Linked DNA regions of Homo sapiens. The protein of the gene in region 2 purifies or fractionates together with the protein of the main gene of each other region. This does not show direct contact. Each region holds a gene or a part of one and is shown on either strand. Other genes may lie near its edges.

Region 1 (7,826 bases), on a different chromosome or scaffold from region 2:
GGTGCCAGCCAAGCACGGTGGCTTACACCTGTAATCCCAGCACTTTGGGAGGCCAAGGCGGGCAGATCACCTGAGATCAGGAGTTCGAGACCAGCCTGGCCAACATGGCGAAACCCCGTCTTGACTAAAAAAAAATACAAAAATTAGCCAGGCATGGTGGCGGATGCCTGCAATCCCAGCTACCTGGGAGGCTGAGTGAGTAGAATAGTTTGTGAACATCGGTGGCAGAGGTTGCAGTGAGCTGAGACTGTGCCACTGCACTGCAGCCTGGGCAACAGAGTGAGACTCTCAAAAAAAACAAAAAACAAACAAGAATGTGCTGCCAAATCTAAAGTCATGAAGATTTATCTGTATTTTTTTCCTAAAAGTTTAATGACATAGCTCTTATATTTAGGCCTTTGATCTCAATAAAAGTATAGGCCATTTGGAGTTCATTTCTGTATATGGTATGAAGAAAGACATCTATTCTTTTTTTTTTTTCATCTATTCTTTCTTTCTTGAGACGGAGTCTTGTTCTGTCACCCTGACTGGAGTGCAGTGGCACGATCTCGGCTCACTGCAACCTCTGCCTCCTGGGTTCAAGCGATTCTCACGTCTTGGCCTCCTGAGTAGCTGGACAGGCACGCACCACTGGGCTCAGCTAATTTTTGTATTTTTTAATAGAGACAGGGTTTCCCTATGTTGGCCAGGCTGGTCTCGAACTCCTGACCTCAAGTGATCCGCCTGCTTAGGCCTCCCAAAGTGCTGGGATTACAGGTGTGAGCCACCATGCCCGGCCTAGACATCTATTCTTGAATGTCTATCAGGTCTCTCAAACCCAAACTTCTAGTATTCCTCTACCAAACCTGCTCTTCCCAGTCTTCCCTATCTCAGCAAATGCTCACGTTAAAAATCTTGAAGTCGGCTGGGCGCGGTGGCTCAGAGCCTGTTCTAGCACTTTGGGAGACCGACACAGGAGGACTGCTTGAAGCCAGGAGTTCAAGACCAACCTGGCCAACATAGATTTTTAAAATCTTGAAGTCGTCCTTAAGTTCTCTTTTTCTTTTACAATCTACCTCCAAACCATTAGCAAATGATGTTGGCTTCACCTTCAAACCATATCTCAAATTTACCATCTCCTCCTCTATTAATCTGGATTATTACAACAGCCTTTTAACTGGTCTTCCGGCTTTCACCTTTGCCTCCCCACAATCTAATGAGCAGCCACTGATCCTGTTAAAATTTAAGTCTCTGCTCTAAACCCTTCAATGACTTCCTATTTCACTCATAATAAAAACCATAGTGCCTTCCAAGACCTACAAGGTCCTACCTAAAGAATTTGCCCCTACCATACACACACCTTTCTGGTCTCATCTCACCTCTCTCCCAGTCCCTCTCCCTGGACTCCTGGTTGCCCTGTCTTTGCCTTCTTTGGAATGCTGCTGCCCAAGGTATCTCCATGGCTGGCCCCTTCACCTGGTCTTTGCTCAAATTCACCTTCTTAGTGAGGCCTTCTCTAATCACTGTATTTAAAATAGCAATTGTGCGTCCCTTGATACTACTTATTCCCCTACCCTCTAACCTTTGTTTATTTTTCTCCACAGTATTTATCATCATCCGACACACTACGTATTTTACTTGTTTATTCCCCCCCCATTAGAATGTAATCTTCATGAAAGCAAGGACTTCGATTTGTTCATCTGTAACCCCCACTGCTCACAACAATGCCAACACAAGTAGACCTTCAATAATTAATTGAACTAATTAATAAATAACATAAATTATAGTCGCCCGTTGCTGCACCTGTTCCCTTACTGGACTGAGAGCTTTCTGCAAGCAGTGACACCCTTATTCACCCATGAACTCCCAGCACCTAACATTTGCGCTCGGCACATAGTAGGCATTGATTTTAAATGAATGAACCAACAAGACAGGCCTATGAAACATCTCAGCCTTTCAAACACAGTCCCTATGCTATCATTCCCTAAATATGTCAGTGTGTGGGGGTTATCCGAAGGAAGAGGTTCCAATACCAATTTCCACGCCCTCACGCGTACACCCTCTGTTATCCCTACAATACCCAAGCGAGAAAATGAGTAACGGTGACAGCCAGAAAATGAATCCTGAACCGTGCAATGACAAGTCCGAAGGAGAAAGCAGTTGCGATGAGATGAAAGAAGGTAGCGGGACTCAAAACAGAAACACTGTCCCGGGGGTGGTGGCAAGGAGAGGGAAAGGCCCCAGTGGCCACAACCATAGAGTCCTGCTCTCTTTTGACAGCTAAGGAAACTAACGCCCAGAGAGGAAAGCGACTCCCCCGAGGTCACACAGCAAGTGAGCCACGGCGAGAACCCACAGCATCCCGCGTCCGCGCGCCGCCCCAGCTCCCTCGCGTTTGGGGTGGTGTCCTCCGCGCAGAGCCCCCACCAGCGCACGTGCTCCGAGGTCCCCGGACGCCCGCCCGCCCACGGCTCGGGGCCGGCTCCCCATCTCGGTCCAACGCTGGGGTCGACGGCAGTGCGCTGCGCCCGCCTCCTGCGCCCCTCTCAGCCAGCCCGGGAGCCCGCCAGGGGCCGGCGGCTGGCAGCGCTCACCGCGAAGGTGGGCCCGGGCCGCCCGCTCTGCGCCCGCCGCTTACCTGGCAGGGTCCCGCGGGAACCTGAAGAAGGCCAAGTCGGACTGCGTGCTCTTCCGCGTGCAGTTGGGGGCAGCGCAGAAGTTCGGCATCGTCGCCCGCCCGCCGGCCGGCCCAGCCCTCCCCTCCCCGCCTCCTCAGGGCAGTCCGCCCGCCCGTCGGGGCCGGGGAGGGGAGCCAGGCCGGCCGGCCGGCTCGGCAGGGCCGACGCGCGGGGGAGGGGCGGGCGGGCTAGAAGCCGCGAGGGCCAGGAGGGGTGCCGCGGTCCGAGGCCGGGCTGGGGACGCGGCTCCACAGTGCTGTGAGCGGCCGGGAGGATTTACCGCCGCCGCCGCCGCTGGTGCACCTCCCGCCCGCCCGAGACGCTGCCGCCTCCTTCCCACAATGCACCCTGACGCCCGGGGGTGCCCTCTCTTCCCTCAGCCTTCCTCCCCCGCCCCTCCTTTCCGCCTTCTCAGCAGGCGGGCACGCGCAAGGAAGCGCGCCTGCCGGGGTGTGGCGAGGCGGAGGCGGGACCTGGCGCGCGCCGCCGCAGTGCGACTGCGCACAGTCTAATCCGCGGGGAGAGAGAATTGCGCATGCGCGCCTGTCTCCCGGGACGCTAGAGCAGGCGGTTCCTGGGCTGCTCCGGTAGGTTTGGCGTGCGCGGGTTTCTGCAGATCTAGGGCGAGCTTGCACGTTACATCACCGATGCATCTCTTCTTGCTTGCTTAATTTGCCACCACTTAGGCCTTTCTTGCAGAATTCGCCATATACTCCTTAAGGGCCGCGGAATCGGAGCGACCTTGGTGACTGGCAAACTCTCGGCAGATGTGCGTGCACTGGTTTGATGCAGACGTGGTTGTAGGCGATTTAATTTTTCCCAGCTTTGCAGCGACTGTTGGCTTCCCAGAACGGATCTCCCCAGCCTCGACTGGAAGCTGAGGGACAAAAATTCATAAAAGCAATTACTCTTTCCCGGCGAGGCTTCTAGAAGAGCAAGAAGAGCGATATGATTACACCTGCAGCCCTATAAAGATTGATCTGTCCGTCTTTCCCTTACAGTCGTGGCCTGTTAAACGTTCCTGTGTTGTTCAGTGCCAGAATGAGTGACCGCTATTTAGAACAAAGGATTAGTATCAAATTTTGCGTGAAATTGAACAAGTCTGCAAGTGAGACCCACCATCTTTTAAAAGAAGCTTATGGGGATGAAGTCATGTCAAGGGCCAGAGTTTTTGACTGGCACAAAAGGTTTAAAGAAGGACGGGAAGATGTTCGAGATGATGCCCGAAGTGGGCGTCCAGTCACCCACCGAACAGATGACAATATCCAGAAGGTCAAGGACTTGGTTTGTTCAAACAGGCAGTTAACCGTGAGGATGATGGCTGAAGAGTTAAATTTAGACAAAGAAACTGTTAGGCTCATTTTGAAAGAAAACTTGAACATGAGGAAGATTTCTGCAAAAGTTATTTCGGGTGTTTTGAAGGGTGAGCCTAAACCACGAAAACTTGACTTTCGGTCCGATCTTTCAAAGGAAACTAGGAAAAATAGCTCATGTTTGAGGAAAAAGGTAACAGGTTCTGAAACATGGAGTTATCTCCAGGGTGAAGCTGGTGGGGAAATGCCCCTGCCGGTATCCCATCCCAGAGTCCACTACTCTGCCAGTCAGCTTCTGCAGGCGTCATCTTCAACAAGCCTTCCCCCCAGGGTAGCTGAGAATTGGTTCACCCCATGGTGAGAGGAATGTGAGTTAGCTGAACCAGAACTAGGATGCTGCCTCACTGTTAGGCACCTTCTTTGGCTGCTCACGTATTTTTCAGTCTTCACCACTCCTCCCTATGTGCCATGGCCCTCCTCATTACTCTTTGCTGGACTCTTGGACCATTTTCCTTGCTGTTCTCCATAACTTTGAAAAACTTTTGGCTGTTCCCTTCTGGTATTTGCTTGTTCTTGATTTCTTTTGCTCAACAAGTTTGGATTTCTTCTCTGCCCAGACCTTAGCTTGTTGTGGCTGTCCTGTTCCTTTGTTCTCAACCTTCTGCCTCAGAGGATCATGCCAGTGAGAAGAGAGGAACAGGATCTCCTGGAATCTGTATCTCTGTGCCCAGGGAAGCATGCTTTTCTGGGAGGACCCCAAAAGAAGGCTTACAGTTTCAGCCTGCTTTGCAGTCAGGGCCTGAGGTATGGTACAGAAGGTAGTAGCATGCTGGTATTACTGAACAGTGCTGGGCCTAGGGGCTGATCTGGCCCAGATGACTCAGTAGGCACCCTTAGGAATCAGGGGTTGGCCACCAATACTGATCTTCTCACAGGCCTACACCTCACAGAAGAGCTGGGTTTGTTTCATTCTAGTCCTATGCTTTGGACCTCCACTCATTTGGGTATCACCCCTGTTGGAAGAGGAGGATCTGGTGCTAGAAAATATAAACCCGGGGACCCAGGCAAGGCTGTGTTGTGTGGGGAGGAAGACCAGGTGGCTCTCTAGTCCCTGAATTAAGGGAGCCTGCTGCCTATGTGCGGATTCCCACACAGCAGCCTGTTTTTAGTAACTAATGCCTATAGTTTTGAGAACTTGCTGTTTTTAGGACACTGCTGGGCATTGACAATGTGGAGGTTATGAACAAGATCTCCAAGGGCTGATGGGCTTCATGGATGAGATGGTTCTTGAACTGGATCCATGAGGATGGGTGAGACAGGGCTGTGAAATTAGGGAAAGCTTCCGGGGCAGGTGGAACAGCATGAGGCTTCCAACCTGCATCAGTAGAAAATGACACTGGCCAGGTGTGGTGAATCACGCCTGTAATCCCAGCACTTTGGGAGACTGAGGTGGGTGGATCACAAGGTCAAGAGATCGAGACCATCCTGGCCAACATGGTGAAACCCCGTCTCTACTAAAAATACAAAAATTAGCTGGGCGTGGTGGTGCACACCTGTAGTCCCAACTACTCAGGAGGCTGAGGCAGGAGAATCTGTTGAACCCGGAAGGCAGAGGTTGCAGTGAGTGGAGATTGCGCCACTGTACTCCAACCTGGCGACAGAGCTAGACTCTGTCCCAAAAAAAAAAAAAAGGAATTAGAAAATGATGACACTATTGGCTAAAATAACAAAGTTTAAAGAGGAAGATAATGGTGTTGCAGCAGATGAACAATTTGGGATAATTTGCTTTCTCTCCTAAGCCTCCAACTCTATGCCACTTGTTGTTAAATTGCTTCCCCTGAGTCTGTGAATAGGTTTGTAACAACCAATTTGATATCTGATTTTCCATTTGGACCCCGACAAGCAGTTTCTGCAAGTTCAAACTCTGTCTCTTCTCTTCCTGCCTCTGCCAGGATTTATGGAATGGAACTTTTCCCAAGTGGGTTCCAAGTAATACCACATAGACTGGAAACATTCAGGGGGCAGGGGTTTGGTAATAGCATTTCACAGAATTGGCCAGTCTTTGTTTTACTCAAGGATTTTTAGATATAACAGCTCCTCTTAAACAATATTGCTTGATAGTAGAGGCACAACACTCATTCATCACAGTTACTTTTAGTGCTGTTCTTTCACTTTCTCTACTCACCTCCAAAAATTACAAGTTCCTCATTAACACCTGTTTTTGTTTTGTTTTGTTTTTTGAGATGGAGTCTTGCTCTGCTGCCCAGGCTGGAGTGCAGTGGCACGATCTCAGCTCACTACAACCTCCGCCTCCCAGGTTCAAGTGTTTCTCCTGACTCAGCCTCCTGAGTAGCTGGGATTACAGGTGCATGCTGCTACACCCGGCTATTTTTTGTATTTTTAGTAGAGGCGGGGTTTCACCATGTTGGCCAGGCTGGTCTTGAACTTCTGACCTCAGGTGATCCACCCACCTCGGCGTCCCAAAGTGCTGGGATTACAGGCGTGAGCCACCACGCCGGGTCAACACCTGTTAGTTTTGAGACACCTTGAAAGCTAGACGTTGTCCCACAAAGAGAAGATACTGTGTAAGAAAACTCTTAAACCAAACAACAGCTTATAGACCTCCAGCTCCTTAACAGTTTCTAGACATTCCATTTCAGGACAATGAAGTCTTCCTACATCAGATGCGGCTCTAGGTTGCCCACAAGCACTTGGCACCAGGGACACTGCACTTTAGGAACAAAGTCCCCACCACTAGTTCTTGCAGCTTTGTTGCTGAACCTCATAGTAATCCTTGCTAAGGCCTACCCAGTGGTAATTGTTGCAGATTTATATGCTCCTGGTCCCAGGCCAGGATCCCACAACCATACCTACAGGAGTTGTTTCTAACCTGTTATTAAACAGAGGTCCTGAGACAACTTACTTCTGGATTTTATTCCAGTCCTATGAACAGGGCTGGTATGTCCCTGCCAGTGATGCTGGACCAAGACCCATGGTGGAGTGTAGAGTACCAGAAGCTATGTTGGTCCAGACATGGTTTAGACACAGCAACCAGAAGCAGGTAATTAGGAGTGTGAATTCAAATGGTTCCAATTGGCTATAATGAAAAGGACTTATCCAGAGCAAACCATTCACATTTGGCTGCTCAGAATTTCTAAACCCAAGGGTAGAGCATGATCTGGGCATCTCCAAATAGGAAAGTTCTTATATGAGTACTCCTAATGTGTCCACCCACCAAATCTATTTTATTGCTGATGCACGTTTTGCCCTGGCCTGCACCTTGCTGCCTAGGCCTCTTGAGCTCCTGGTCCCGTAGTCTCACACATCCAGCTATGTGTCCGTCACACCCCAGGCTCTTGTCCTTGACTATCTTCAGACACCTCTCAGTTTATTCTTCACAGTTTGCTCTTACTCCTCTCTTTCCTTGTTGCTTTGTTTTCTGGTCCTGGGTCACATCTTCAGTAGCTGCTTTTGGTCACTTTGGTGTGCTGATCCTTGTATTGACCTTTGGGTCATGGTTTTCCACTTAACTTACAACTCTTCTCTGATTTTTTGGATCCTTCTTTCAGCTCCCCGCTTCAGCTGCTGAGTAAGGAAATTGTCTGCTCCAGCCCTGGCCCCAGGTTGCCTTCCTATCTTAAAGAAGCAGGGTGGGGTGACATGGGGGAATTATGTGTTGATTTTGTTTTTTCTAAGGGACATGGGCACCTTAGCCACCCTCAGTTGCACTCCCCAGAGGCACCCAGTGTCACCAGTTTCTCAAGGAGGCAATATGGTTACCTCTAGTAGCAAGAGTCATGAAACTTCTTCAGAGTTATAACATCCAAAGCCCATTCTCCTAGCAACTGTATTTTCC
Region 2 (7,022 bases):
TTTTTGTATTTTTTAGTAGAGACGGGGTTTCACCGTGTTAGCCAGGATGGTCTCGATCTCCTGACCTTGTGATCCACCCACCTCGGCCTCCCAAAGTGCTGGGATTACAGGTGTGAGCCACCACGCCCGGCCGAATTTCCTTCCTTTCTAAGGCTGAATAACACTCCTTTATATGTGTATAGCACATTTTTATTGAATGTTTATTCATTCACCCGTTGAGGGACACTTGGGTTGCTTCCACATTTTGGCTATTGGGAGTAATCCTCCTGTGGACATGTGGGTACAAATATCTTTGAAGCAGGTTAAATTAATTATATTTTATTTAACACAACATATCCAAAGTGTTATCATGTTGACATGTAATCAATATAAAATTGAGGCCGGGCGCAGTGGCTCACGCCTGTAATCCCAGCACTTTGGGAGGCCGAGCCGGGTGGATCACCTGAGGTCAGGAGTTGGAGACCAGCCTAGCCAACATGGTGAAACTCTGTCTCTACTAAAAATACAAAAATTAGCTGGACATGGTGGCGGGCACCTGTAATCCCAGCTACTCGGGAGGCTGAGGCAGGAGAATCCCTTCAACCCCGGAGGTGGAGGTGGTAGTGAGCCAAGATTGTGCCACTGCACTCCAGCCTGGGCGAAAGAGGGAAACTCCGTCTCAAAAAAACAAACAAGCAAACAGACAAAAATTAGCCAGGCATGGTGGTGCACACCTGTAATCTCAGCTACTCAGGAGGCTGAGGTAGGAGGATCATTTGAGCCTGTGAGGCGGAGGTTGCAGTGAGTGGAGATCACGCCACTGTATTCCAGCCTGGGTGACAGAGAGAGACCTTATCTCAAAAGAAAAAAAAAGAGAGAGAGATAGGGTCTCTCTCAGTCACCTAGTCTGGATGTCCAGTGGTACGTTCATAGCTCACTGCAGCCTCAAACTACTTGGCTCAAACAATCCTCTCACCTCAGCCTACAGAGTAGATGGGACTACTACAGGCCCATGCCACCATTCCCAGCTAATTTTTTGTGGAGATGGGTCTCACTTTGTTGCCCAGGATAGTCTTGAACTCCTGGGCTAAAGTGATTCTCCACTGCACCTAGCCAGCTCTGTTTCTGAAGAAGAAGAAGAAAAAAAGGCAAGCATATAACACACCGCATCTCAGTTAGGATTAGCCACATTTCAAGAACTCGATAGCCACAGGTGGCTAGTGGCTACCACTGGATAGTGAGGTTCCACATAATCCCACATTTTTAGTTCTGACCATGTTCCCACCAGCCTCCCTGAGATCACACCCAGTGATAATCCTTCCTTCCTTTGTGAGTAAACAAATGTATTTTAAAATTATTATGGAGACTTTTAAAGATATAGAAAGTCAGACAGGATAATGAAATGAGCTCCCACAATCCATCACCCTCTATACCTCCCACTCCCCCTGCCAAGTGTCGTCATTTTGAGCCCTTACGATGACAGGTTTTTGGGGGTCGTCTCACGTGCTGCTCACAACCACCTCGGAAGGTGGAGCTGTTATAATTATCCCCATTCTACACACGAGGGAACAGGAGCTCAAAGAGGCCAAGTCCCGTTAGCCCTGAAGTGAGGCACACACGTTGCTGTGACTCCCTGTGCTTCTTGCCATCTTGGAGTAAATCCAGTTGGCCAATTTCAGTCTTTTTTATTTTTTATTTTTCTATTTTGAGAAGGAGTCTCACTCTGTCACCCAAGCTGGAGTGTAGTGGCATGATCTCGGCTCACTGCAGTCTCCACCTCCCAGGTTCAAGCGATTCTCCTGCCTCAGCCTCCCAAGTAGCTGGGATTACAGGGGCCCACCACTACACCTGGCTAATTTTTGTATCTTTAGTAGAGACGGGGGTTCACCGTGTTTGCCAGGCTGGTCTCAAACTCCTGACCTCAGGTGATCCACCTGCCTTGGACTCCCAAAGTGCTGGGATTATAGGCATGAGCCACCATGCCCAGCCAATCAGTCTTGTTCTTTATCCCACTGCCCCATTTCCATGTGTGCCCACTGTCAGGCCCCACGCCCCCTTCCTCCTCCAGTCCCAGCATGCAGATCCCCCAACAGTCCTGTTGCCCCTGAACCCAAATAGCAGCCCTACCCCTACTAGCCATGTCAACTTGCATGAGATCCTCAAACCTCAGTTTCCTCCTCTGTGGCATGAGTGCCTTAAGAGAGCCTACCAAGGGAATGTAGTGAGGATGAAATTAGCTACAACACGTAAAACCCTTAGCAGGCGCCTGTTCTAACCACTCATGTGATAACTGCTGGTGACGTTTATTCCCACGGATGATTTAGTGGATTATCCCAACAAAAAGTATTTGGATTTTAAAGAAGGACACTGTTGGCCAGGCACAGTGGCTCATGCCTATAATCCAGCACTTTGGGAGGCCGAGGCAGGTGGATCACTTGAGGTCAGGAGTTTGAGACCAGCCTGGCAAACATGGTGAAACCCCATCTCTACTAAATACACAAAAAACTAGCCGGGCGTGGTGGTGGGAGCCTGTAATCCCAGCTACTCTGGAGGCTGAGGCAGGAGAATCGCTTGAACCCGGGAGGTGGAGGTTGCAGTGAGCTGAGATTGTACCACTGCACTTCCGCCTGGGTGGTAGAACAAGACTCAGTCTCAAAAAAAAAAAAAAAAGAAGGGCACTGTTGATCTTGCAGAATGGTGCCAGGATGACCAGTGATGGGCAGGATGGAGGGTGGGTGGGGGGAGACAGAACCAAGAGCCACCCAAGTGTGTTCCTGCCAGGGGTCCGTGCCCGCTTTCCTCCCCACCACCGTCTCCCCCCAATAGGTGTGCGGAGCTGCTCCTCAGGTTTGGAGCGAGAGTGGATGGTCGGTCCGAGGAAGAAGAGGAGACCCCTTTGCATGTGGCCGCCCGGCTTGGCCATGTGGAGCTGGCAGATCTGCTTCTAAGACGGGGGGCATGTCCTGATGCCCGCAATGCCGAAGGCTGGACCCCACTGCTGGCTGCCTGTGACGTCCGCTGCCAGTCCATCACCGATGCCGAGGCCACCACCGCCCGCTGCCTGCAGCTGTGCAGCTTGCTGCTTTCAGCTGGAGCAGACGCTGATGCTGCGGACCAGGACAAGCAGCGACCCCTGCACCTGGCCTGCCGCCGTGGCCATGCAGCTGTCGTGGAGCTGCTCCTGTCCTGTGGTGTCAGCGCCAACACCATGGACTATGGGGGACACACGCCCCTGCACTGTGCTCTGCAGGGCCCAGCTGCAGCCCTGGCCCAGAGCCCCGAGCACGTGGTTCGGGCTCTGCTCAACCATGGCGCCGTCCGTGTCTGGCCAGGGGCCCTCCCCAAGGTATGGGGGCTGCAGGCAGCAGGAGGGCCACCATGGTGAGGGGACAGGGAGACCTGGGCCTGTGCTCCGGTTTGCTTTGGAATGTGGCCTGTGCACATAGATTGGTTCCTTCTGTCTGTCTTTCATTCAGCATGTAAGCAAAGCCCAAATAGGGGTCAAGGTGAAGACACAGATCAGTGGGAAATGTGTGTGTGTGCATGTGTGTGTGCATGTGTATACATGGTGTGCGTGTGTATACATGTGTTCATGCATGTATGTGCATGTATATACTGTGCATGTGTGATAAAGGCGGACTGGGGGCAGTGGGGCCAGATTAGATAAAGGATCCAAAAAGACAGAAGAAGTCAGGGCTGATGTGGGTGGTGGGCGTTGTTTAAGGGTCTTCATCAGCACAGCAAACTGATGAAAATAGCACTTGAGGAAGCTCCCACTAGCAGTGGGATCAGTTCAGTGACAGATGCAGGAGAGGCTGTCCAAGGGAAGAGGGTGAGCCTGTTTCAGGAGGCTCAAGGTCCCCTGAATGTCTGTAAATGGACATGGTCCCACTTTCTGAGAATCTAATAGGACCCACAGCCCCCAGAACAGCTGCCACTGTCCTGGCACCTGTGAACATGCCTTTCACTGTCAATTTCAATTTATATCCTACTTTATCTTAATTTCCCCTAAGTAGGTTCAACTTGAAGACCTGTGCTACTGATGCCCTGTGAGGGGGCCTTGCCCCATGCTGTGTCGTGTCTGGAGGGGCATAGATAATGTCATGGAGGGCGCTGGGTCTGGGATGGGGACATCCGTTCTCAGAGGAGATGGCTCAGAACCGAAACCACCCTCTGAGTAGGCAGTTCCCCTCTGGCTCAGCCCAGAGTGTTGTCCCACCCAGCCTTGCCTGTCCTGGGACCACCCCTGCTATCCCAGCCTCTCCCCTTTGCTCACAAACCTAGAAGCATCTGTCTGGATTCCTAAGCAAGACCAAATAATTAAACAGCCCAAGAGTTCGGCAGATTGGTCTCCCCTTTGGGAAAATACAAGAAAATCAACAATTAACACTAATTAATCTCCTATTAACACTAGATAATTAGGAGACAAGCAATTCCCTGTAATCTGACGGCAGCTCTGACAGCTAATGATTTCCCTGGCAGGCAGGGGCGGGAGGAGGGCCCGGCGCAGCGAAAGGGTTTCCTGGGTCCCCACAGCCCTGCTCCACCTCTCAGCCTGTCTCTGGGACCAAAGGGGCTGGCAGAGCAAAGTACCCCATTTGTCCCTTTCCATGATCTGCAGCCCTGCCAGCTGAGGGGTTTCTGTCCTCCCTGCACAGAAGCCTCCACCGCCCATCTGTGATGAAATGCCAGCCCCAGCTGGTTCTCTAGGAGCCACCACTTTAGACTTGGTGCTCAGGGGACCTGGATCCAGGATGTGACTTTGATGCTTGTTCGTATGGGTGTAGGCAAGTCACTGCATGTGATACAGCCTCTCCCTAACAGGATGGAAAGCTGTAGGAGAGCACTGGGGAACAGTCGGAGCAAGCACAGCCTTGACTACACACCAGGCACTGCTCTAAGCTGTATTTCCTGTTACAGGAGTTCCTCAGTCCTCCCAGCAACTTCTGAGTTCAGTGGTGACTAGGAGTGTAGGCTCTGGAGCCAGACACACTACCTGTGTGGCCTTCGGCAAGTCGCTGAATCTCCCTAGGCCTCAGTTTTGTCATCTGTAACATAGGGATATGATACTATGCCTTCTTCATAGGGTTACTGTGAGAAGAGTTAATACACATCAAGCCTAGTGCTTAACACTTGTTAGCTAGTGTTGTTCTTGTTATGTAATGTATGAGAAAGCACTTGGTAAGCTGCTTGGCATCATCCCAATGAGGGTATCATTGGACATGGGAGTGAAGCAGGTTGATGTAGCTGCATGGGCTTCCTGGAGGAGGCAGGACTGGGATGGGCAGTTTTGAAGGGAAGGAGGAGGAAGAGGCAGGCATTCCAGACACAGCGAGCTACTTGAGCCCAGTGCAGAGGTGGGGATCAACATGGGCCAGGAAGGACAGAGACGGGCCTGAGGGGCAGGTGGAGAGGAGAGTTGGAGAGAACCAGCCTGCTCTTCCCTAGCTTGGAGGAGGAGTGAGGAAAAGAGGCCTCCCGGGACAGACTGATGAGCACTGCTCAGATGCAGGGCTAGAAGCAGAGGCCCCAGGTGTGTAAAATGCTTTCTCCAGGGACCCCTGGAAGGCCAGGCCTTCTGCTCCCACTGCTCATTGGTACTCTCGTCTGACAGACAGAAGGGTCTCCTCTCCTTGCAGACAGAGTCTGTTAAACCCCCACCGCTAGATGCAATTGTGTTTGGCCACATGTGGGTTGTGTGTGAGATGCTGCCTGAAAGACAATACTTAGCTGTTTTCAGATCTCAAAAGGCTCTGTGGCCATCGCCTGCATAGATGCAGCGAGAGTGGAGTGCAGTGGAGGAGGCACAAATCTGCTTTAGGTACTGAGTTCAGGCACAAGCGGGTGTCTTAGTGCCAGTGTCTGTCAGGCCACTTTTCTGACCACGTGGACGGTCTGTCCACAGGCTGCTCCACTGCGTGGCTTGCCCGCTTGCTGCACTGGACCACCACCTCAGAGACCTTTCTTGGCCACTCCGTCTAGGACAGTGCCCTCCCCAACCATGCTCAGTCCCCTGACCCTACTTTTTTTTTTCTCTTTTGAGACAGGGTCTCATTCTGTCGCCCACACGTGCCGTGGCACGATCCCGGCTCACTGCAACCTCTGCCTCCCAGGCTCAAGAGATTCTCTTGCCTTAGCCTCCCAAATAGCTGGGATTAAAGGTGCATGCCACTACCGCCCGGCTAATTTTTGTATTTTTAGTAGAGACAGGGTTTCACCATGTTGGCCAGGCTGGTCTCAAACTGCTGACCTCAAGTGATCCACCCACCTCGGCCTCCCAAAGCGCTGGGATTACAGGCATGAGCCGCCACGCCCGGCTCCTTCTTATTTTTCATTGCAGCAGCAGATCTGTGAGTGATGACTTCTGTGTTTATTATGTTTTCCCTCTGAAATAGAAGCTCTTGGATGACGAGGACTTTATTTTCCCCACTGCTGGATTCGAAGTGCTTGGCACATAGTAGGCCCTCAATAAATAGTTGCTGAATGAACCAATGAAAGCATATATCTGGCTCCAACTAGGTTCCACCCCTGCTCCTACCAAATCCTCTCCTGCTCCTGCAGGCAGTCCATCAGCCTCAGGTTGCCTTGTCCCTTCTCCCTGAATACCCTCCAGGCTCTGGGGTTCCCTTGCCTCCAGAGCCCAGTCCTCCCTCTGTGAGTCCCCCACCCAGCCCCACCCCACTCCCTGGCCCCCTCTTGTAGCTGTCTCTACCCTCACTTGGCATTGGATGGATTCTGTGATCTTTTTATCTGCTCAGGAGCTCCAGCCACAGGTCAGGGACCCCTTCCAGCCAGCAGAAAACCCAGCCCAGAACCTTGTAGAGGCAGAGAGGAGAGCAGGATGGTGGTGTGGTTAAGGGCAAGGGGTCACGCTTCCAGGCCTGGACTGTGGGAACCACAACTTGGGCAAGTTAATTAACTTCTCTGTACCTCAGTTTCCCTTGGCTGTAATGAAGGAAATGGGATAATAACATGGGATATTAACAGTCCATCCCTTGCAGGGACAACAGTGAAGAGTTCATACATGTCAAGTGCTAGAAATC

What was found. Proteins that work in one complex are often made in the same cells at the same time.
Region 1: the proteins of ASB10 (region 2) and THAP12 purify together in Homo sapiens (affinity purification with mass spectrometry; 2 studies listed by BioGRID and IntAct, with this or other methods). This does not show direct contact.

What each region holds. Positions count from the first base shown.
Region 1 is NC_000011.10:76,378,131-76,385,956, forward strand, and holds the start of THAP12 (52 kDa repressor of the inhibitor of the protein kinase), read right to left. Parts: upstream 3,003-7,826; 5' UTR 2,707-3,002; coding exon 2,618-2,706; intron 1-2,617. Other genes in the region: protein GVQW3, read left to right, coding at 3,699-4,080. UniProt on the Homo sapiens protein: Upstream regulator of interferon-induced serine/threonine protein kinase R (PKR). May block the PKR-inhibitory function of DNAJC3, resulting in restoration of kinase activity and suppression of cell growth.
Region 2 is NC_000007.14:151,177,242-151,184,263, reverse strand, and holds part of ASB10 (ankyrin repeat and SOCS box protein 10), read left to right. Parts: intron 1-2,805; coding exon 2,806-3,325; intron 3,326-7,022. UniProt on the Homo sapiens protein: May be a substrate-recognition component of a SCF-like ECS (Elongin-Cullin-SOCS-box protein) E3 ubiquitin-protein ligase complex which mediates the ubiquitination and subsequent proteasomal degradation of target proteins.